Regions from separate parts of the Homo sapiens genome. Here all the other regions are reported to be linked to region 5. The links are microRNA targets in miRTarBase. Many come from high-throughput screens and were not tested one by one. Region 5 holds a microRNA gene; each other region holds the end of a gene's coding sequence. Distances are from middle to middle.

Region 1 (4,091 bases), not on the chromosome of region 5:
CTTTTTACATTTTGCTATAAAAAGAACTTGGTTCCAGTGACTCTGGAGGCTGAGGTGGGAGAATTGCTTGAGGCTAGGAGCTCAAGACCAGCCTGGGCAACATATCAAGACCCTGTCTCTAAGAAAATTAAAAAAAAAATTACCCAGACATGATGGCATATACCTGCAGTCCCAAGCTACTTGGGAGGCTGAGGTAGGAGGATCACTTGAGCCCAGGAATTCAAAGCTGCAGTGAACTATAATAGCACCACTACACTTTAGCCTGGGTGACAAAGTGATACCCTGTCTCTTATTTAAAAAACAAAAAGTGAGACCGTATCTCTTATTTAAAAAACAAAAAGTGAGACCCTATCTCTTATTTAAAAAACAAAAACAAAAAACGCTAACTTGGGACAAGTTCTTGGGAAATTTTATCCTAGTGTTGGTTCTGCCACTGACTTGCATCCTGTCCACATAGCTTCAGGCAATGGAATAAATAAGGTTTGAGGTTCCTTTTCAGCTCTAAAGCTTTCCTTAATTACTGCTTTTTTTTTTCTTAAGAGTTCCAGAAGACAGCGAACAGTGTGAGAGTCTCATTTCTATGCACAGTGTTTCTCAGGAGGATGGAGCTAGTTAGCTGTCTGTTGTCTGTAGCCCAGGTTTGTATGTGAGCTGGGTTTAGTATTGAATAAGGTTCTTATCTGTGTAATATTCAAAGGATTGATTTTCTATAATTAGTTGTTTGAGAGGCAATACAGCCTTAGAGGCTAAAGGGGCTAAAGCCTGGACTCCAGTTCCGTCTTCTCCACATACTAGCTGTGTGGCCCTGTGCAAGGTTCTTAATCTCTTGATGCTCCAGCTTTCTTATTTGTGAAATGGGATTACAGTAGAACCTCCCTTATGAGGGTGTTAAAATAGTAAATACTTGGTAAATATAAAGTATGTATAATAGTGCCTGACTCAAATGATCAGAAAGTTTTAACTCATTTTTATTCATGCTAAGGGTCATTTTATTTAATAATATGCTTTAGAAAAATATTTTTTCTCTGATGATAAAAGAAAAATGTAATATTCTGGTGTACAATATACTGGTTGGAAAATACTAGTCTTTATGTGTCTGTTTTACATAACTGGCACAGTGTTTATCCTCATTCTCTGACATTGCTTTGTCATTTAACAATGCTTCTGGAATTTTTTTCCATTTTTTCCATTTTAAGAAATAGTGTCTTTTATATGTCTTCGATGATAGAGTACATGACATTTAATATTTTGCTGAATGAAAGCTTGAATTAAATGTAACGTACAGATTTTGCAGGTACAAAAGTGATTATTTAGAATGAAAGATCACAAAAAACTACTAGAATTTTTCTAGTTTTTCTAAGACATCTTTAGGCAATTTATATTGAAGTGTTTCTTGATTGCTACTGAGTTTTCCCTCCCTATCTAGAACATTGTACAACTCCTGTCAGTTGTTAACACTTATATTAGGCTTGAAGGTTAAGTTTCATTATCCTCCTGGTAAACTTGCTTCTAACCTACAGCTAATGGTCCTGGTTTTCTGTTTTTCTTTAGTGTGCTGTTTTTAAATCTAGTTTATACCTGCACATGGTTTGAGCTCTAGTTCTCCAAGACTTTTTGTACAAGGCAGTTACCCCTGCCCTTCCCTGCCCTGCTCATCCTGCTTTCATTTTCTTCCCACTCTGAGGAAATTAAACTCTTAGCTGATTCTTTTGGTATTTTCCTTCTTGTCTCCCTAAGTATCATGCTTATGACTTGTGTTTCATGAGTTCTCGGTTTTAGGCATCTTCAGCTGACTTTCCCACTAAGATCAACGAGGACAGATTATTTTCAAGTTGACTCCTCCTCTGCTCCCACCTCATAGGCCTCCTGTCTCCATATCAGTTCTGCCTCCTCATCATCCCTGTGTAGTTGTTGCATAACTTTGGATAGATCTGTAGTCAGTGTTTATATTGTTGTCACTAAAAAATTGTTACTTATGACTGAGCTATGTAGGATTCGTCCTGGTATTTCCCTTATCCAGAGATTCTCTGTTACTACCCTTTTTGGAGAGTAAACCTTAAAGTCTTCTCCTGGGGTAGAGAAAAGGCACTTGGCCAACTGTGAAAAGTAAGAGAGGGCATCTGAGTGTCTGTCTGCTTTTTCTATAGACATTATACCAGTCTTCATGTTTTTAGTTGTTTCTTCACCCCTCCTTACAGAGATATCTGGTCCTGTTTTTCCATTGCTAACCAAGAGTTGGCTGTTATTTTCTCATCTCTCTACTTTTCTTTTTGTCCATGTGGTTTATTCCTTTTAAGAAAAAAATTCCAGGCTGGGCATAGTGACTCATGCCTGTAATCCTAGCATTTTGGGAGGCCAAGGAGGGAGGATAACTTGAGCTCAGGAGTTTGAGACTAGCCTGGGCAACATAGTGAGACCTTATTTCTGTTAAAAAATATATTTTTTTAACCCTTTGTTTCCTTTTTAGTGAGGTTTTGGAGAACAAGTGGAACTAAATATATGTTTATGTGCCATCTTTAAATTTAAAAAAACGTAAACACAATTACAGTAAGTCCTCACTTAACATCATCAGTAGGTTCTTATAAACTGTGACTTTAAGCAAAATTACAGCAAAACTTTTTTTTTTTGCATCAACATTATAACATAACAACACTGAACGAAAAAATGTTATTCGGGGACCTAAAGTCAGTTTCCTAGAACCTATGACATTAAGTGAGGACTTTGTATTCTTGAAAGCTTTTTAATGCTGTAATTTATGCATTATTTTTCTTGGGTATGCTGTGCATTGTTCTCGTACTCACACTTAAACCTACCCATATCCAGCAAGGTTTCAGTATTTTTAGAAGTGAGAGCTGTGTAAAGGAGAGAGTGAAGACTAGGGAGGATGGATTGCAATAGAGTAGAATAGACTGGGCAGGTGACTTTGTCTTTGCAGGAGTAATGGTGGAATATACCAGGAGTACAACTAACTGCTAATACACAGTCTTTAGTGTTGATGTCAGCTTTTGACATTGCTATAGAAGTCACATTCATAAGTTCTTAGTACTCCAAATTTGAGTATCCAGTTATTAAGTATGTATACAGTGAAAATAGGTATTTCAATTTTAAGATAATTTGCTTTTTAAAATGTAAACTATAGAAAACTAAAACTGTGAAATTATAATCTAATCACATTTCTGTGGTTTCTGTTTTTAGCTTGATAATGGAACTATACAGCGAAGAGACAATCTCTGGCAAGTTTTTGTAGAAAAAATGTTTCAGTGCCTAGTCTGAAAAATAACAGTTTGAGTTCTTTGAAACTCTAAAATATATTTTTCTCATACCTGTTTTCTTCATTTTCATAATGAAGCACTTTGCTATGTAGCTGTGTACATATCACTACAGTTATAGGAAGTTTCAGTCTACAGTCCATCCAAAGGACCAACCTGCCTTACACATCTCAAGGAATTCAGCTGTTGAAATCATTTGAACTAATCAAGGAATAAATCCTAATGTTCTGGGACTTTATTTTCACATGTTAAATGCTGGAATATATTATGAAAATGTTTTCAAGAAATCACTTAAGTGTTCATAGACCAGTATTTCTGACAGGTAAAATGCTAAAATAAGCTACCTGTAATAAGTGTGGATTATATTTTTGGGTTTTGTAGAATATTGCAAATTAACCACACAAAAAATGTTTAATTTATGCAACAAGCATGTTTGTGCAAATTTCATGGGACTTTAAAAAGAATAAGTATTTGAGAAAATATCTGGTTCACTTACACTACATTTACTGTATTATTCTTTTATAGCATTAGGTGCCTTGTATTTTAAATCTGTGACAAACCATGGCAAATTTTTAAAGGGGAAGTATTATTATAAAATGAAGAAATATGTATTTCTAAAGGCTATATTGCTGTAAACTTAATTGATAAAGCTCTGTTTAATTTAGAGTTTTGAAGAAATAGTCTCCCTTCAATTAAGAAATTTTCATAATGGAATGATTTAAATTGAAGTGACAAAGAGTATTATTAAAATACAATGTTTATACGTCTATTTGTGTATTGTAGATGTATCAAGTGATTTCTAATTTTTTTCACATATGAATG
Region 2 (4,091 bases), not on the chromosome of region 5:
CCTGTCACCCAGGCTGCAGTGAAGTGGCACAGTCTCCGCTCGTTGTAACTGTCACTTCCTGGGTTCAAAGATTCTCCTGCCTCAGCCTCCTGAGTAGCTGGGACTACAGGCATGTGCCACCATGCCCGGCTAATATTTGTATTTTTAATACAGAAGGGGTTTCATCATATTAGCCAGACTGGTCTTGAACTCCTGACCTTAAATGATCCACTTGCCGTGGCCTCCCAAAGTGCTGGGATTATAGGCGTGAGCCATCGTGGCCAGCCCACCACTTTTTTTTTTTTTTGGGACAGAGTCTCGCTCTGTCGCCAGCCTGGAGTGCAGTGGCACAATCTCGGCTCACTGCAACCTTCGCATCCTGGGTTCAAGCGATTCTCCTGCCTCAGCCTCCCTAGTAGCTGGGACTACAGGCACACCACCACGCCCAGCTAATTTTTGTATTTTTAGTAGAGATGGGGTTGCACCATATTGGCCAGGATGGTCTTGATCTCTGGACCTCATGATCCACCCACCTCAGCCTCCTAAAGTGCTGGGATTACAGGCATGAGCCACTGCGCCCGGCCCACTTCTTACATTTCCAGGTCATTCTTTCTAGTTCCCCTACTTTAACACACCTATAATCCACTGGTTGTACATTTTCACTATCCCTCCCCCCGTCTCAAGCCCTCACTTCCCTGCTTACCCAGCTGAAATTCCACAGACCATCATCATACCCTGCCCCTCTTCATGTGGTCATTCACTCTGGGCAAAACCACAGCCCTGGTGAAATTTATTTCATCTACTCTATGCCTGCACCCAAACAGCTTTACACGGTTGAAGAAAAACATACAGCCATGCTCATCATTGGTCTCATTTACTTTAAATTCATTATCACTAACCTTGAGGTCCTTCATCCTGTCTGCCTATAAAATTGTTTCCAGGTTCATGCACTTTCCCATTCTTCTAGCCCAGAGCTTTCCTCTAGTTCCTGTCTCCTGTATCTAACTGCTACATGAGATATTTCTCCTTTGAATAGAAAACTGAGCTCCTGACCAGCCTTCTTCTCCAAACCAACTTGCTCCTACAAGAATCTTCCTCAATTTCTCCAGCCCCAGACATGGTTCTCTTTATCTCACACTCCATGACCAAACTCTCCCCAGGTCTTGCTGATTTTACCTTTAGGATATACCTAGACCTCACTGCTTTATACCACCTCTACAGCAACCACCTCAGTCCAAGCCAGCATGCTCTCTCAACTAGATTACTGCAGTAGTCTCCTAGCTGTTCTCCCTGATTATGCCTTTGCCACCACACTTCAGCCTACTCAGCAAAGCAGCCATAATGTCTCCTACTAAAATTACATCCCTGAGCTATAGGATACTCTGGGTTTCCATTCTTCTTTCACTTTAATAAATGCCATTCTTTTATTATTATTATTATTTTGAGACAGAGGCTCCCTGTGTCACCCAGGCTGGAGTACAGTGGCTCGATCTCTGCTCACTGCAACCTCCACCTCCCGGGTTCAAATGATTCTCCTGTCTCAGCCTCCTGAGTAGTTGGGATTACAGGCGCGCATCACCATCCCCGGCTAATTTTTTTTTGTTTTTAGTAGAGACGGGGTTTCAGCATGTTGGTCAGGCTGGTCTCGAACTCCTGACCTCGTGATCCACCCGCCTCGGCCTCCCAAAGTGCTGGGATTACAGGTGTGAGCCACTGTGCCCTGCCTAATAAATGCCATTCTTATACTATAAAAGACTATTCTGTGCCATCATTATTTCAGACTGTTCTAAATTATATTATTATTATTATTATTATTATTTTTTGAGACAGAGTCTTGCTCTGTCACCCAGGCTGGAGTGCAGTGGCGCGATCTCGGCTCACTGCGAGCTCCGCCTCCCGGGTTCACGCCATTCTCCTGCCTCAGCCTCCCGAGTAGCTGGGACTACAAGCGCCTGTCACCACACCCGGCTAATTTTTTGTATTTTTAGTAGAGACAGGGTTTCACTGTGTTAGTCAGGGTGGTCTCAATCTCCTGACCCCGTGATCCACCCGCCTCGGCCTCCCAAAGTGCTGGGATTACAGATGTGAGCCACCGCGCCCAGCCTGTTCTAAATTATTTTTGATAAATCTTCCGTCTCACAAGCAAATCACCTTAAAAACAGTTGCATACATTTTCAGTAATGCATTCCAGACTAGAACAGAGATAGGAAATTGATGACTTTCATGGGATAGAAACTCATGATGGCCTAACTGATACAACTAAGCTTGTCAATTAGATCTAGTATTTAGTTCACCATCATCAAACTTTCAAATATATATATTTTAAAAAGGAACAGATAATTAATGTTACCAATTCATTTTCTTTAGGAATCCCAATGTGCCAAAACTTGTATTTTAAAACTAAAGAAAAGATGATTTAGACAAAATGTCATAATTTCATATTATATTCTCAATGCTTTCAAAGCCCAACAGTGATTTTAAAAAGAAATTAAACAACATGCTTTCATTGAATTTTTAAAAATCTATACAATTCAAGCTAATGAAATATTTTATTGTACATAATAAAAGTGGTGTTTTTCTAAAAAAAAAAACAATAAAATAAAATAAAAAAAAAATTTCCAGGCCCAGACGTCTGTGGGAGTACGTGAGGAAAGGATTCCACTCAAGTATAATCAGCAATACTCTATTGAATGAAACCATAACTCCACTTCACTCCCTATGGTAAATACTAACATTCACCACAGGCTTGAAATTCCTGTAGCATCAGTAGAACTATTTTTGAAAATATTACAAACATGCTTATGATGCATAGGAGGATGAAAAAATTTAGACTGTAACCGCACACCATATGTAATCCCAGCTTTTCTAATTTACAACCAGTTAAGAATTACAATATCCAAAGAAAGTATTTTAAAATATATATGCTCACTGGTAAGTGATTTTCTACTCAAATAAATAGGAAAATTTGCATTTTAATGTCACATTGAATTTCAGTACTTTTCAATCCAAGAAAAAAAAAATAAACCGAGACATGGTCATGAGTTCAGGATTATATATATTACAATTTGCCTTGTTATAATACATTTGTGGCTTTATGATAAAAATAACTCAGGGACATATGGAATTCAAGCTGATTTGCGTAACTGTCACAAGAAAAAAAGCATTAAATGCATTTCTGAAATAAGTATTTTCATTAATTTCAGAATCTCAAAACAGCATTAGACCTTGCCTTGTTTAAAAAAAATTTAGTTCAACACTAAGCTAGCTAAATAACCTTCTTGAAAGGTTTAAACACAATTGATATAGAAAATGCTTTCCCTCTAATCTCAACTTTACATAAATGGAACAGGTGAGGAAGAAAAGGTAGACAATTTCTTTAGCAGCATATATGGCTAAATCCATCAACCACCTTAAACTAGAATGTCCATTATTGACCCCATTAAAAAGAACTGGGGAAATATCAAAAATTACTGATTTCATAAACCAAAAGACATCAATTTTAGGGTTACAGTTAGTAAAATATTTTTGAGACACTTCAAAAACTTTTAACCATAAACTAGAAGAATCATCTCTTCATTGTAAGAAAGAAAGGCCTAACAGAAAGACATTTAAACTAAACTGATTTTCAATCCTCTTAGAACAAACAAAATGAAAAATAATGGTTGATTAGCTAAGCTTTGTGCTCTAATCAAACTAATTAATTACAGTGATTTTAAATGGCAACAGCCCATCTGACTGGGCAGCTTGACAGTTCAGAATACTTTTGCAATGATTTTTTAACGCAAAGACACTAAAATGATCCGGTCATGCAATGTTCATCTTATGCATTCTGCATCTCTTTGCCAATCTTGTAGCTAAGGATCTTGTTCCAATCAATCTTAGTGCGTGTAACTGGCAACTGTCGACGTAAGGCTTTGAAAGTAGTGTCCGACATTGTCTGATAATTCTCACTGATGGCAGTCTATGAAAAACAATAGTTAGAAGTTTAAAGTAAAGCAAAGAACAGAACAATTTATAAAGCACATAGATGTTTTCAGAATAAGTTTTATTTAAGCAGCCTGTTTCACTGTTTTTAAACAGTCAAATAAAATCCCAACATTGTTTTAAAAGCT
Region 3 (4,091 bases), not on the chromosome of region 5:
AGAAAAGTAAAAGCAGTGCTTTTCGATCCATCCCAGCAATAAATGATACTATGATATTACACATACAGATGCCTAAAAAGCATACTATAAAAGGAAAATTCCTGAAATGCCTCCAAAATCCTATTATGCATACTAGACTTTATCATCAGTACTTATATTCTTCAAAATGTACCTAATACAGTCACATGCTCATTAAAAGAGTTGATACAGTTTTGATGGCAGGCTACAGTTCCCTGCTGTCTTTCCATGATGCATCAGCAGAACCATTCAAAGCCACACACACCAAACCTATTAAGAAAAAAGCATTCATAATTCCCAGCTGTGTCCTCTACATTTTCCAAACAATATTAATTTCACATGTATTTATCAATATTATATATTTAGTGGGAATTAACATTAAAATCAACATATTGTTCTTAAGTAATCCAGACTAATAAACCATGAGTCAAACAAATCTACTCTGCGAAAACCTCAAATCACTCTGTGTGATAAATTATTTTAATAACATAAAGCTATAAATTTTCTCTATTTTTATATCCAAGACTAAATACCATTGACTATCCTTCAAAATGTTTATGTTCCAAAATCCTGTAGTTACACATAAACCCACAACAAAAGACATTACTTTAGAATGGTAGAAAAAAATATTTTTAAAAATTGTCAATTCTTAAAATTGGTTAAGTAATTAAAACCATTAAATCATAACACTGACCTAACAGGACAAGAAGTTTCTTTTGGTAATCTTTATTAGTATATGATCATCCTCAAGGGTCTCACTTGCTAGCCTTTTAAACAAATTTCTAAGGCAAATTTACAGTTCATTTAAAAGGTAATAAATACCACACACTCCTACAACCTTAGCCACTTTACAAAACAAAGGAAAAATTTCTTCCAAATGTTATTATAATTAAGAGCTTTTCTATATTAATTCCTCTTACAGTCTCCCAGTGTGTCTTAGATTGCCAAGTACATCTTGATTGTGACATGCAAAATGGATTCTGCTTTAGAAATGGGTTAATTGGCATGCAGATTTCTGCAGAGATCCATAATCCCACAAACAAGAGGGGAAATGAACATTATAGGGCTGACTCTGACAACATGTACTTGGCAGGGGAAGGCGGCAGGGGGTTGGCAACTTCACAATGGTGGATTTGGGGGAAGGAAACAGGACAAGAGACTGAGGTACCCAGACCCTCATCCTGCCAACAGCATTCACGTAGTTACTAGCTTCCATGTATAATAAGACACATTTTCAAAATGGAAAGGAGGTTATCAGAGAGACGGATTCAGATCATCAGTTACCATTAGACTACAGTTTCATTCAATTTAATCTTTAACCATTAAAAATTTTTAAAGACTATATTTCAAGGTAATAGTTCATTTCAAATTTAACAAATTACAAATGCACTAATTTGTATGTATGTGTATGTTCTCTATGTGTCATCTTAAAGCATTTTAAACATTTTTGATAATTAAAATGCAACAGCCATGTTGAAATTAATGTTTACATAAACTGTCAGTGACTTTATTGGCCAAGAAAAGGTAGCTCAAAGCTTTAACTTTATATGAGCTTGATAAAAGCCTTTCAGGGCATGTTTGAGAAATGTGCTCTACTATAAAAGTAACTATTTTAATATACAGCCAAGGTCAATTATTAATATTTTTCTTTTTTTTTTTTTTTTTGAGATGGAGTCTTGCTCTGTTGCCCAGGCTGGAGCAGTGGTGCGCTCTCGGCACTGCAACCTCTGTCTGCCAGTTTCAAGTAGTTCTCCTGCCCAGCCTCCCGAGTAGCTGGGACTACAAGTACCCACCACCACACCTGGCTAATTTTTTGTATTTTTAGTAGAGACAGGGTTTCATCATGTTGGCCAGGCTGGTCTCAAGCTCCTGACCTCAAGTGATCTGCCCGTCTCAGCCTCCCAAAGTGCTGGGATTAGCGGCATGAGCCACCACATGGCCAATACTTTATAAGCAAAGTTTAAACAACTAATTTAATATTTGATAAGGTTTTGGTTTGCCTATATATACTGGGGTAAAGTATGACACAAATTATTAAGCTTGACAAAATAAAAGTAGACTTTACCTGACCACCTTTCTATATTCTTCAGTGAATTCATCAAACAGCATTTTCAACAAAGCTTTGGATCCAGTACTTTGAAGTGAAACAGTGACCTAAAGCCTCACGTCACTTTGGTGAAAGCGGAACATAAATGACTTTTCAACTTCAGAGTTCATATTTGTTAGAGTAGAGAATACGAGGAATGAATAAAGTTATCCTTGTTAGTATTAAAAGCCCTAATTGGAAGAGAAAAGTCTCCAATTAGTTGACCCTATTTATTAACCAAAAGCTTCACAGAAAAACAACTAAAAAAGATATTATGCTTTAAAAAATGGGATATATATTTGGATAATTTGCAACCTATAATCCTAAAAGAACTGCCAGAATGCAAAGATCTTTTTAATATTATTATTTCTGGTGAAATCAAACTCAAAATATAATACCTAGGACTCCTTGTCCAAAGAAGAAATTAAACTAGATAATTTCTTTTCTGAAATAGTCTGCAAATTATAATTCACAAGAAGTACACAAAATAGGGTAAATAAAAGTGTGTATACATGAAAAGCTACAATAATTCCAATTTTTGCTTCCCTGGCAAGGTACTGTACATATACATCAACATAATAGAAATGGCACAGTCTCTGAGGACACGTTTCACATTTTATTTACATTTTAAGACTAACTTTAATCTCAAAATCACATATCCATACACCTATTTCCTTTTTGTTGACTTCACTTAAACTTAAATGCATGGTTTGTTAAACAAAGACTGTAAACAAATATTTACCATGTCTGTTACATGTAACACACAAGAACAGCTTTTAACAGGAATTCATCAACTCCCCCCAACATTTTTTATTATAAATACAGGTATCAAAACAATCCTGAACATATTTTTGATACTACTAGTAGTCAGCACCCACATTGCTTCAAAAATTAACACATCTGTGACAATATTCATTGTACCTGCTACTTTTTAAACAATTTCAACTGCAGCTCTCTTTCACTAAGTAAGATGGGTAAAGCATGCCATTTCTGTTTTCTTGAGATTTTTACTTTTTAGAAACACACATGCTTCCACTGCCATCTGACACTTCTCCACACGCTTTCATCTTGTAAACCTGAATTCTATTTCGAGTACTCCAGGTTTATGTTTAAATGACAGTGCCTTTCAAGAGAAAAAAAATTGTGCTGCATTTTTCCTCCTGTTACCTGAAAACATAATGGGTGTACATATATTAAATATATTCTTACAAATGTCCAGGTCATGTTTACCAGCTGGAATTCTTTTACTTAATGTGTATTTTGCATTGTGATATTTAATCAAGACATTAACATGAGTAGAAGGTTGTTGATTTAAGACAAGTTTGAGATCCACTAAAATTAATTGTTGTATGTTTGTCCTTCTGGTGGCTGTGGAAGCTTCATATTTTCTTTGGACATCATTAGACGTCTTAGCTCTTGAAGTACAACTTTAATGCTATATGAATTTTGCCATTTTGCTAACACTGGTATGCTCCGGGCATCCACCTGAAAGGGGAGGAAAGAGTACAGTTAACTAGCAAGTTTAAAGTACTATGGCACCAATTTGTTAAGCATATTTTAATAAGAATGATTTTGAAAATTCATAGCTTGCCTCTATTTTCACAAAACATACACTATGGAATTACTAATACCATAATTAGTATATTTTATCATAATTAGTTTAATATTTTGGGAAAATATAAAGACATAAAACATACAGTGAACTTTGGTCATCAGAAATAAATGTTATATTAAATAACTACTTTGTCAATAAATTTACCAATTCTTTCTTAATGGAGTAAGGTCAAAAGGTTCCTCTCCATTTCCAATGCCACCGCCCAAAATCTGGGGAATTATCTCACACTGAGATTTAGACAAAAGCTACTAACCTGATCTCTTCTTTCAGATTTTTCTTTCCAATGTATTCTACGCACTATTCCTAATTATTCTTTCCTTTTTTTTTTTTTTTTTTTTTTTTGAGACAGAGTCTCACTCTGTCACCCAGGCT
Region 4 (4,091 bases), 32 Mb from region 5:
ATGAATGTTGCAAAGCCTTTAAGTGGTCCTCAGCTCTTACTACCCTTACTCAACATAAGAGAATTCATACTGGAGAGAAACCCTACAAATGTGAAGAGTGTGGCAAAGCCTTTAACCAGTCCTCAGCCCTTACTCGACATAAGATGATTCATACTGGAGAGAAACCCTTCCAATGTGAAGAGTGTGGCAAAGCTTTTAACCGGTCTTCACACCTTACTCAACATAAGATAATTCATACTAAAGAGAAACCCTACAAATGTGAAGAGTGTGGAAAAGCCTTTAACCGGTCTTCACACCTTACTAAACATAAGAGAATTCATACTAGAGAGAAGGCCTACAAATGTGATGAATATTGCAAAGCTTTTAACTGGTCCTCAGCTCTTACTACCCTTACTCAGCATAAGATAATTCATACTGGAGAGAAACCCTACAAATGTGAAGAGTGTGGCAAAGCCTTTAACCGGTCTTCATACCTTATTCGACATAAGATAATTCATACTGGAGAGAAACCCTACAAATGTGAAGAGTGTGGCAAAGCCTTTAACCAGTCTTCACACCTTACTCAACATAAAATAATTCATACTGGGGAGAAGCCCTACAAATGTGAAGAATGTGGCAAAGCCTTTAACCGGTCTTCACACCTTTCTCAACATAAGATAATTCATACTGGAGAGAAACCCTACAAATGTGAAGAATGTGGCAAGCCTTTTAATCGTTTCTCATACCTTACCGTACATAAGAGAATTCATGCTGGAGAGAACCCCAACAAATATGAAGAATGTGGCAAAGCTTGTAACCATTCCTCAAACCTTACTAAACATAATTCATAATGGAGAAAAACCCTACAAATGTGAAGAATGTGTCAAAGCTTTTAACTGTTCCTCAATCCTTACTAAACATAAGGGAATTCATAATAGAGAAACCCTACAAATGTGAAGAACGTGGCCTGGCTTTTAACAAATCCTCAACATTTACTAAGCATAAAATAATTCATGCTGGAGAGAAACTCTTGAAATGTGATGAATGTGGCATAGCCTCTTCCCAGTTCTCAACTCTTACTAAACATGAGAACACATGTGGAAGATAAAGCCTACAAATATGAAGAATGTGACAAGGCCTTTAAAAGTTCTCAACCCTTATTACACATAATTTATACTGGACAGAAATCCTAAAGTGTGAAGAATGTCACAAAGCCCTTAATAAGTCCTCAATTCTTAACAGATATAAGATGTTTCATACTGGAGCGAAACTACAATCCTGAATGATGTCACAGTGCTTTTAACAATACCTCAAACTTTTCTAAACATAAAAAAAAATTATACTAGTGCGAAACTCTAGAAATATAAAGAACATGAAAAACTTTTAAATGGTTTTCACACTTGATTGCAGGTAAAATAATTTATACCGGAGAAAACTCCAAGTGTGAAGAATATAACTTTTAACCAGTGTTCACAACTTATTGTACAGGAAAGCATTTATAGTTGAGAAATGGTGTACAAATATAAAGAATGTGGAAAAGTCATTAATATTTGCTCACATATTACACATCAGAGAGTTCATACTTAATAAAAGTATTATAAATACAATTACTGTCAAATGATCTTTCAGAAATATAAACCTTTAAAGTGAAGAAGAGTTCATTCTAAAGACAAACATTACAAATATAAAGGGGTTTGTAGTGCTTTTACTTGTATCACAGATTTTATTGTACACATTTTGTACTAGAGAATAACCCTGAAGCAGTTGCTAAAATTTTGTTCAGCATTAGGAAATTTATGTTGGAGAAGAATTCAGCAAGTGTGATTAATTTGGAAAAACATTTTTTCCATAACTATAGCTTAGAAAATGCCAGAGAGCTCATACTAAAATATACTTTTGCAGATGCAATAAATACAAAGAAATATTTAATTCAAATTGAGTTTATATAATTATCAGAGAATTAACAGTAGAAATAGCTAAGGCACTGACACTTCAGACATTACACTAAATCAGATTGCTGAGTATAGAAAATCCAAAACTACAGTTGGTAAGTAAATTAATTTTATGTAACTTTAAAATGAGTAGACATTTCTTTGAGAAGTCATAATTAAATTCAAGTATACTTTTTTGATAAAATTATAAAGCTTTTTAAAAGTAAATAATGATGTAAGTCAACTCTCAAATTACTTCATGCTGTTTCTTCATTTCTATTGTATTCACCTGTGAAAGCATGTGATCAACTATTGCTGCATCAGAGATATGAGAGATACTTTATTAGGTGGGAATTATATACGACCTCTTCTATAAAATAGTAAGGACACTGAAATATAAGATGCATAAGAGTCTAAGTGAAGAGGTTCTTTGTGGTTAACTTAGTGATGTATGAAGTAGTTGCTCATGTTATGAGAGAAAAACATTTTTAATTTTAGTTAAATGTAAGTTAAAATTAAAATAGTACCATATAATGTTAGTGATTGTACTTTTATTTAATAAAATGCAGTACATTTTAAAATTTTTAGATTATTTGTGGACTTAATTTATAATTAAATATTTTCTTTTACCACGTTAAGACTATTGTACGTTCAGGCCGGGCACAGTAGCTCACGCCTGTAATCCCAACACTTTGGGAGGCTGAGGCGGGCGGATCAATTGAGGCCAGGAGTTTGAAACCAGCCTGGCCAACATGGTGAAACCCTGTCTCTACTGAAAATACAAAAAATTAGCCAGGCATGGTGGTGGGTGCCTGAAATCCCAGCTATTTGGGAGATTGAGGCAAGAGAATCACGTGTACCCAGGAGGCAGAGGTTGCAGTGAGCCAAGATCACGACATTGCACTCCAGCCTAGGCAACAAGAGCAAGACTTCGTCTCAAAAAAAAAAAAAAAAAAAAGACTTGTGCATTCAGTGGAGTATTATTATTCCACTAACTTTAACATACCCCACCTTACTCAAGGGTGTAGGTAAAATATGGTAACAATATGCTATTTGGCAACATAGTGGAATAACACCTCTAGTAATCTCTTCTGCCAATGGCTTCAAATTGCAAATAAGTTAAAAAATATTTTTCCCATAGGTTACATTTTTATCCTTTTTTTCTTAAATTTATTCTTTTTAATTTTGTGGTTACACAGTATGTGTATATATTTATGCCATATATGGCATATTTTGGTACAGGCATATAATATATAATAGTTACATCAGGATAAATGAGGCATCCATCACCTCTAGCATTTATCCTTTTTATTACAAACAATTTGATTAGTAAAATAAAAATATTGTTATTTTAAAATATTAAAAGTACTTTATTTTAAAATTTGCAATTGTTCTGACTACAGGGTCATTTTTATGGTCATAATAAAATTTATATAGAAGTATAAATAAAATTGATACATTTCTAAGTACTGAATAAATATTTAAAGAATTTGTTACATATTTTTCTTTGAACATGATTTATCTCTGCCTGCAAACACATATAGGCTTTTAGTTTTGATTTACATAGAGTTAAACATATACATATATTACTCTAAAGATAAACCTTAGGTGTAAGAAAATTATGAAGTAAGTGTGTATGAGTATGAGTTTGTACCCATTTTTGGAAGGAGAAAGCAATATTGGAACAAAACAAATTATTTTAATAAGGTGACTTATTAGAAAACTAAAAACCTCGAAAATGTTGAAAGCAAATCTATACTCTGTGCATTGTATTGAATTCATTGCTATAAAATGTTAGGGCTTATAGTTCAGAATCTCCCTATGCACATTCTCTGTTTTTACTTGTCTGGTACTCATGCTAGACCCATAATGTTCTTGTTTTGTATTTTATGAAGTACTCATTATGTGAGCTGGTCAGGGATTATAAGAATGATTTTTATGAAATTTAAGAGTGCACACAAAATAATTTTTAGATGTAATTACAAAATTAGTTATATTTTTATATAAGTTAGTTTTTATATAATAGTTATATTGTTATATTTTAACGTTTGATTTTTGTTTTATTGGAGAAACCTGTATAAGGCTAATTTTCTTTATTGTTTCTTTCACTTTTTATAATTGACATAAGTAAATCTATTGAGTGAGCTAATTTGCTTTGGTAAGTACTAGGGAGACTTCATA
Region 5 (4,083 bases):
GACCAGTCTGACCAACGTGGTGAAAATCCGTCTCTACTAAAAATACAATAACAACAAAAATTAGCCCAGTGTGGTGGTGGGCACCTGTAATCCCAGCTACTTAGGAGGCTGAGGCAGGAGAATTGCTTGAACCCGGGAGGCAGAGGCTGCAGTGAGCCGAGATTGTGCCACAGCATCCAGCCAGGATGACAGAGTGAGATTCCGTCTGAAAAAAAAAAAAAAAAAAAAAAGCTGGGCGCTGTGGCTCACGCCTGTAATCCCACCACTTTGAAAGGCCGAGGCGGGTGGATCACGAGGTCAGGAGATCGAGACCATCCTGGCTAACACGGTGAAACCCCATCTCTATTTAAAAATACAAAAAATTAGCGAGGCGTGGTGGTGGGTGCCTGTAGTCCCAGCTACCCGGGAGGCTAAGGCTTGAGAATGGCTTGAACCCAGGAGGCGGAGCTTGCAGTGAGCCGAGATCGTGCCATTGCACTCTAGCCTCGGCAACAGAGCAAGACTCCGTCAAAAAGAAACAAAAACAAAAACAAAAAAAAGAACCCTACAGTACTGGAGCAAGAAGACCTCATGCTGTGACCCTCTAGATGGAAGCACTGTCTGTTGTCTAAGAAAAGATCGTGCATCCCTTTAGAGTGTTACTGTTTGAGAAAAGCAACGTTGAAGATGCTGCTGATCTTGGTAATACATTTGCAGAGCGTGCTTATCATCAGACTTGCATGATGTTGGGGTTCTCTTTGGTTTGTTTTTTTCCAAGACAGGTTCCCTGTTGCCCAGGCGGGAGTGGGTGGCACCTCCAACCGAGATCTCTTGGGCTCAAGTGGTGATCTTTTTATTTTTGATTTTTTGAGATGCGCTCTCATTCCGTTTCCCAGGCTGGAGTGCAGCGGCAGGATCCCTGTTGACCGGAAACTCCGCCTCCCAGCTTCCGGCGATTCTCCCACCTCAGCCTGCCGAATAGTTGGGAATAGAGATGCCCGCCATCGTGTCCTGCTAGTTATTATTTTTATTGTTGTTGTTGTTGTTGAGATGGAGTTTCACTCTTGATGTCCAGGCTGGAGTGCAGTGTTGCAATTTAGGCTCACTGCAACCTCCACCTCCTGGGTTCAAGCGATTCTCCTGCCGCAGCCTCCTGGGTAGCTGGGATTACAGGTGCCTACTGCCCCACCCAGCTAATTTTTGTGTTTTGAATAGAGACTGGGTTTCACCATGTTGGGCAGGCTGGTCTCAAACTCCCGACCTCAGGTGATCCACCAGCCTTGGCCTCCTAAAGTGCTGGGATTACAGGCGTGAGCCACCGCCCCTAATCTCACGTGGTCCTCTAGAGTCAGCCTAGACTCTGGTCTATCCTGGAGGATGTTTGTGTGTGAGACAATGTATATTCTTCAACATCAGCCCAATTCTCTTAGCTAAATGTAAGGTATGAGTAGTAGGTATTCCTTTTTCTCTTTGGGGACAAAACTCAGGACGATCGCCCCTTGATGAACAAGGCTAACCTGCTGAGCCTTTGAAGCAAGGAATTGGAGATGGTCCTTTCAGGGGTTTATGTTCTGGATTCCATAAAACATGTAAACAGGGCCAATAAATGCATTTTTATTTTTGTATCCGTTTTAACCTGGTCAAGGAAAATTCCAACAAGAAACCCAGAGTGCTGGAGCAAGAAGATCCCATGCTGTGACCCTCTAGAGGAAGCACTTTCTGTTTGTTGTCTGAGAAAAAACAAAGTGCTTCCCTTTAGAGTGTTACCGTTTGGGAAAAGCAGTGTTGAAGTTGATGCTGATGTTGGTAATATATTTGCATGCTTATTATCAGACTTGGATGATGTTGGGGTTCTGTTTTGTTTTTGTTTTCTAAGACAGGGTCTCTGTGGCCCAGGCTGGAGTACAGAGGCACTTCCAACCTAGGTCTCTTGGGCTCATATGGTCCTTTTTGGGACAGTCTTCCTCTGTGACCCAGGCTGGAGTGCAGTGGCACGATCTTGGCTCACTGCAATCTCCACCTCGCGGGTTCAAGCTATTCTCCTGCCTCAGCTTCCTGAATAGCTGGGATTGCAGGGGCCCGACATCACACTTGGCTAATATTTGTATTTTTCTTTTTTATTCATTTATTTATTTTTGAGATGGAGTCTCGTTTCCCCAGCTGGAGAGCGGTGGCATGATCCCGACTGACTCCAACCTCTGCCTCTCAGGTTCAAGCAATTCTCCTGCCTCAGCCTCTGAAGTAGCTGAAACTACAGGTGGCCGCCACCACGCCTGGCTACGTTTTGAATTTTTTTTTTTTTTTTTTTCAGTAGAGATGGGGCTTACCATGTTGGCCAGGCTGGTCTCAAACCCCTGACCTCAAGTGAGCCACTCACCTTGGCCTCCGAAAATGCTGAGAATACAGGCATGAGCCACCACCGCGCGCCTCCCAAAGGCGTGAGCCATGGTGCGTGGCCATCAACACCTCTTACTTTATGGAAATTTTTCTGGCACTGGTATAGAACCTCACATGGGGTCAGGTGGAGTTGAGGGGACCTCAGTGTCCCTGCAGATGGGATGAGCAAGAGCACGGAGGTGGAGTGCATGGGGCTTCAGTGTGTATTGGGGAAATGAAGCTGAAATCTTGGGTGCATGACCAGGAGATAAATGCATGAGACGGGGGTCTCACTATGCTGCCCTGGCTAAAGTGGTCTTAGATCCTCCTGCCTCTGCCCCTCCCAGGCCTTGTTAGATGGGACTACATGTAAATATTAACCCATGCACAGGCAGGAAGAAAGTAAGGACCATTTTTTGGTTCGTCCCGGCCCTCAGTTAAACTTGTGTTTTAGATAAACAATGTATTTGAGATGTGCTTAAACAATAAATGATACGCTATTTAGGTGTGGGCATCTTTGTTTCCCCCTAATTTTAATGATGGGACTAGTCCAGGTATGGTGGCTCCTGCCTATAATTCCAGCACTTTGGGAGGCCGAGACAGGAGGATCACCTGAGGTCAGTTGTTCGAGACCGGCCTGGCCAACATGGTGAAACCCCGTCCATACTAAAAATACAAAAATCAGCCAGGCCTGGTTGCACACACCTGTAATCCCAGCTACTCGGGAGGCTGAGGCAGGAGACTCGCTTGAAGCCAGGAGGCTGAGCTTTCAGTGAGCTGAGATTGCGCCACTGCATTCCAGCCTGGGCAACTGAGTGAGTCTCAGTGTCAACAAAGTAAATAATAGTCTAGGCACAGCGGCACACGCCTGTAATCCCAGCACTTTAGGAGGCTAAGACGGGAGGATCACCTGAGGTCAGGAGTTCAAGACCAACGGGGCCAACGTGGCAAAGCCTTGTCTCTACTAAAACTACAAAAATTAGCTGGGTGCGGTGGTGCACATCTGTGATTCCAGCTACTCGGGAGGCCAAGACAGGAGAACCACTTGAACCCAGGAGGAGGCGATTTCAGTGAGCTGTAATGAAGCCATGGCATTCCAGCCTGGGCCACAGAGCAAGATTCCGTCTCAAAAATAAATAAAACAAATAAAAATACGTAGATAAATACGGGACCGTCGTGAATTTGAGTGTCACCTTTGTGGAGCAGCCACGGTAATCTCTGTCATTCCAATTTTTTTTATGTGCACTACCAAAGCAAGAACTTGTGTAGGAATTATTCTTCCTGTGAGTATGCGATGTATGGAACTTTCCTTGAGACAGGGTCTCAAAAATATATCATGTATATTTTATATATTCTTATCATATATAATATAATCATGTACACACAAAATACTCTTCTAAATACAGAGAATACTCTGATATCACCTTGCGTATTTTTTGTTTGCATGTGTCTGTGTTTGGTTGTTTTTTTTTTGTCATATTTTTGTATCCCTACTTATATATTTATTTTTAATTTTATTATTATACTTTAAGTTCTAGGGTACATGTGCACAACGTGCAGGTTAGTTACATATGTATACATGTGCCATGCTGGTGTGCTGCACCCATTAACTCATCATTTAGCATTAGGTATATCTCCTAATGCTATCCCTCCCCGCTACCCCCACCCAACAACAGTCCCCGGTGTGTGATGTTCCCCTTCCTGTGTCCATGTGTTCTCATTGTTCAG
Region 6 (4,091 bases), not on the chromosome of region 5:
CAGCCTGGGCAACAAAGCAAGACCCTGTCTCTAACAAAAAAGTGAGTACGAAACTGAAAATGAATACCATAGCACAAAGCCAGTAGGAGGCAGCCTAGGAAAAGCTGGGTTCCTGCCATACTGCACACAGCACTTCACTTCATTTCCTTTCCCTTTTGACAATAATCACCAGGAATCCTAGGGGTGACAAGATGCCATGGCTTCCTCAGATTAAAATTCTCAGTGTCATTAACAGAGGTGGCTTCACCTCCTTCTGCCAGCAGGGTTGTACAGATCCATTATGAGCAAACAGAGCAAGGGCCTGGAGAATGCGAGGCTTGGGAATACAGGACCCAGTTGTCACCTTCCATGTAAGTCTCAGTGTGACAGGTGACAAGGTGGGCAGCCTTGTAAGATGCTCCCCACCAATTCCCTCCCTGAGAATAGGCTGGAACTAGTGACTGGCACCTAACAGACAGAGTGCAACAGTGATGAAGTTATGAGAGACTGCGGCTTTTGTCTTGCTCTCGTTCTCTCCAGCTGTCCTTGCTTGTGACCTTTGATGGAGACAGCTGCCATGTCGTAGGCTGCCCTGAGGACTACTCCGTAGCATGATGAAGGGCAGAGGGCGATCTTTAGCCAATAGCCATAAGAAACCAAGATCCTTACTTAGCCTGACAGTCTGTGAGGAACTGACTCCTGCAACAACTATACGAGTGAGCAGGGAAGCAGGCCCTCCCCCAGTGAAGCCTGGAACACACCTTCACTGCAGCCTGCAGAGACATGGACTGCAGCCTGGAGAGACGCTCAGGACTCAGCTCAGCCATGCGCAGATTCCCGACCCACAGAAACTGTGATGAAATAGATGTGTGTTATTTTAAGTGGCTACGTTTTGAGGTAATTTGTTATGGCACATTAGAAAACTAATACACCTTGATAAATAATGTGCTTAAAGAGATAATAAATCACTACTGTTAAGTCTAAAAGGGCATTTGTAAATTATTTATATAGGATCAACTAAGCCAATGGAGGTTATATCAGCTTCAAAAAGGAAAACCAGAACTTCAAAATCTGGAGCCGCTGGGCGCAGTGGCTCACGCCTGTAATCCCAGCACTTTGGGAGGCTGAGGCAGGCGGATCATGAGGTCAAGAGTTCGAGACCAGCCTGACCAACATGGTGAAACCCCGTCTCTACTGAAAATACAAAAATTAGCCAGGCGGGGTGGTGCATGCCTGTAATCCCAGCTACTCAGGAGGCTGAGGCAGGAGAATCGCTTTAACCTGGGAGGCGGAGGTTGCAGTGAGCCAAGATTGCGCCACTGCACTCTAGCCTGGGCAACAGAGTGAGACGCTGTCTTGAAAAAAAAAAAAAAACACATACACAACAACCAAAAGACAACAACAACAAAAGTGAGCTCTTCCTAGGCACGGTGGCTCTTGTTTGTAATCCCCCCAGCACTTTGCGAGGCCATGGCAAGAAGATCACTTAAGCCCAGGAGTTCAAGACCAGCCTGAGCAACATAGGGAGACTCTGTCTCTACTAAAAATTTGAAAAGAAAAAAAAAACAAAACTGAGCTGTCTCATTTACATGAAATGTTCAAAATAAGCAAATCTATAGAGACAGAAAGTAGATTCGTGGTTGCCATGCCAGATGAGAAAGAATGACTGCTGACAGGCAGCGACTACTTTTTGGGGTGATAAAATGTCCTGGAATTAGATCATTGTGGTGGTTATGCAACCTTGTGAATGTACACTTTAAAATGGGACATTTTTATGGTTTCTGGATTTGATTTCAATTTAAAAAAAAAATTTAAGTGAGCTCTTATGGAGGGAAGCTAACACTTCCATTTAACATCTCCCCAAATAGTTATGTTCCATTCCCGCACCCAGGATGATAGACTTGCACTGCTCGAGGAGGACACATAAATGACGGTGTGACACTGGCCTGATGACGCAGCTCAGATCTCATTCCAGGTTTGTTTGGGGGTTTCTGCATTGCATCTTCCAGGAAAATTGCTAGCAAAAGTCCTCCCTCAGTAAATATGTTTGTCTTTTTCAATGTTTTTGTTGTTACAGATGTTAGATCCCTGTTCTTAAGACTTAAAGGACCGGGCATGGTGGCTCACCCCTGCAATCCCAGCACTTTGGGAGGCCGAGGCAGGTGAATCACCTGAGGTCAGGAGTTCCAGACCAGCCTGGCCAACATGGTGAAACCCCATCTCTACTAAAAATACAAAAATTAGCCAGGTGTGGTGGCACATGCCTGTAATCCTAGCTAGTTGGGAGGCTAAAGAATGAGAATTGCTTGAACCCGGGAGGCAGAGGTTGCAGTGAGCTGAGATCACGCCACTGCACTCTAGCCTAGGCGACAGAGTGAGACTCCGTCTCTAAATAAATAAATAAATAATAAATAAATTTTAAAAAAGACTTATGACAATTTTTACCTTATTTCATAATACTTAACTGGCCACTCCTTGCTATGAGCTACAAGGTAAGAAAACTTATCAAATGAAACATTTACAGAGGAAGACATCTTTTCAAAATCAATATTTCATTTCAGCATCTTGTTATTTATTTTTCATTATTTTAAAAAATTATCATTATTATTTTCTTTTCTTTTTTTTTTTTTTTTTTTTGAGATGGAGTTTCACTCTTGTCATCCAGGCTGGAGTGCAATGGCACGATCTCGGCTCACTGCAACCTCCGCCTCCCAGGTTCAAGCGAATTCTCTTACCTCAGCCTCCCTAGTAGCTAGGATTACAGGCATGCACCACCAAACCCAACACATTTTTGTATTTTTAGTAGAGATGAGGTTTCACCATGTTGGCCAGGCTGGTCTCAAACTCCTGACCTCAGGTGATCCACCCACCTCAGCCTCCCAAAGTGTTGGGATTACAGGCATGAGCCACTGTGACCAGCCTATTATTATTTTCAAGACAGGGTCTCACTCTGTTGCCCAGCCTGGAGTGCAGTGGTGTGATCATAGCTCACCGCAGCCTCAATCTCCTGGGCTGAAGTGATCCTTCTGTCTCAGCCTCCCCAACAGCTGGGAGTATAGCGGTGCAACACCACACCCAGCTTTGCTATTTATTTAAATGTCATTCTCCAACACATATGGGGAATGACATATGCTTCCCATTATTACATGGCAAAACATACTCCATATCCAGAAAAAATATTTATATGACATATGGCCTAGTATTCTAAATCAAGGCAGGATCTTCCAACAAGAGCAGGAGAGAGAAGAAAACATTTACATTCTATAACATGATTATAAGAATTGAGATAGATGAAATGAAAAACAACATCTTTGAACAATTACAGTTGACAGAACAGCTTTCCCTTATTCTACTTGCTTTAAATAACTCATATCTGTAAACTTGAACACCAACTCTGGCTGATTTAACAGTCTTAATCCCTTGATTTTCCATACTGAACATCACCCAATATATAGTGAAGATCAAAGGCGACTTCTTCCACCAAGCTCTGTGTCCAGCTGTGTTTCTGAGGTCATACGTGTCCCCTCACGGACACCAGATCAGATACTTCGGTAGTCAGAGCCGCGGGCTACAAAGGCGGCAGCTTCCCATTCCACAGTGAAGAAAGAAATTGTTCCAAAAAACCCAAATATCACCATGACCAGGAGTTGCCAGTGAAGGAGAAGGTAGTTGCTGTAGAAAAATGCCACGGCTGCGCAAATAGACTAAGAACAAACAAAACAAATCACAACGGGCGCACCGGGGGCCACACTGAGCCACAGTTAGCCCCTAGCCCCACTCCTATCCTGCCCCAAGGACACCTGGAACTCACAGTGCTTTCTATTCTTTCTGCATCAAGGTATGACTTCCTCAGTCACTGACTCACAAACATGCACCATAAACTCCTGCCACAGTTCCTGGTATTTAAAATAGCATTTTGGCCAGGTGTGGGGGTTCATGCCACCCAACACTTTGGGAGGCCAAGGTGGGAGAAATGCTTGAGCCCAGGAGTTCAAGACCAGCCTGCACAACATAGCAAGACCCCATCTCTACAAAATAAAATAAAATGAAACAAAAATAGCATTTTGTGGAAAACTGGAGTAACAAGAATGTACAGAGTAAGAAATACACTT

Evidence for each region. The annotated mature microRNA hsa-miR-520g-3p reads ACAAAGUGCUUCCCUUUAGAGUGU and lies in region 5 at 1,720-1,743, shown strand. An mRNA with a match to its seed (bases 2 to 7 or 8) in the 3' UTR can be bound and repressed. Matches are read on the target gene's strand: a 7mer-m8 pairs with bases 2 to 8, a 7mer-A1 pairs with bases 2 to 7 and ends in A, and an 8mer does both.
Region 1: miRTarBase lists SLC35F5 as a target of hsa-miR-520g-3p. Seed matches in the 3' UTR shown: 7mer-m8 at 3,350-3,356.
Region 2: the mRNA of CAPZA2 is a reported target of hsa-miR-520g-3p. Seed matches in the 3' UTR shown: 7mer-m8 at 2,043-2,049, 7mer-m8 at 1,664-1,670 and 7mer-m8 at 226-232.
Region 3: the mRNA of UBE2V2 is a reported target of hsa-miR-520g-3p. Seed matches in the 3' UTR shown: 7mer-m8 at 1,921-1,927.
Region 4: miRTarBase lists ZNF257 as a target of hsa-miR-520g-3p. Seed matches in the 3' UTR shown: 7mer-m8 at 2,599-2,605.
Region 6: miRTarBase lists MFSD11 as a target of hsa-miR-520g-3p. Seed matches in the 3' UTR shown: 7mer-m8 at 2,860-2,866.

What each region holds. Positions count from the first base shown.
Region 1 is chr2:113,714,300-113,718,390 of GRCh38, reverse strand. SLC35F5 (solute carrier family 35 member F5) reads left to right here. Exons shown (of 16, transcript NM_025181.5): 15 at 541-638; 16 at 3,196-4,091. The coding sequence ends at 616. Among named protein-coding and RNA genes, the nearest start is that of MIR4782, 5.0 kb to the left of the region's middle.
Region 2 is chr7:116,917,576-116,921,666 of GRCh38, reverse strand. It overlaps CAPZA2 (capping actin protein of muscle Z-line subunit alpha 2), which reads right to left. Exons shown (of 10, transcript NM_006136.3): 10 at 1-3,940. The coding sequence ends at 3,800. Among named protein-coding and RNA genes, the nearest start is that of ST7, 34 kb to the left of the region's middle. RefSeq lists a silencer at 2,723-3,437.
Region 3 is chr8:48,060,180-48,064,270 of GRCh38, reverse strand. It overlaps UBE2V2 (ubiquitin conjugating enzyme E2 V2), which reads right to left. Exons shown (of 4, transcript NM_003350.3): 4 at 1-3,589. The coding sequence ends at 3,443. Among named protein-coding and RNA genes, the nearest start is that of UBE2V2, 54 kb to the right of the region's middle.
Region 4 is chr19:22,088,613-22,092,703 of GRCh38, forward strand. ZNF257 (zinc finger protein 257) reads left to right here. Exons shown (of 4, transcript NM_033468.4): 4 at 1-2,868. The coding sequence ends at 830. Among named protein-coding and RNA genes, the nearest start is that of ZNF257, 38 kb to the left of the region's middle.
Region 5 is chr19:53,720,501-53,724,583 of GRCh38, forward strand. It overlaps MIR520G (microRNA 520g), which reads left to right and starts at 1,666; the gene lies at 1,666-1,755. It overlaps MIR517B (microRNA 517b), which reads left to right and starts at 576; the gene lies at 576-642.
Region 6 is chr17:76,777,780-76,781,870 of GRCh38, reverse strand. MFSD11 (major facilitator superfamily domain containing 11) reads right to left here. Exons shown (of 13, transcript NM_001242532.5): 13 at 2,530-3,683. The coding sequence ends at 3,519. Among named protein-coding and RNA genes, the nearest start is that of LINC02080, 19 kb to the left of the region's middle.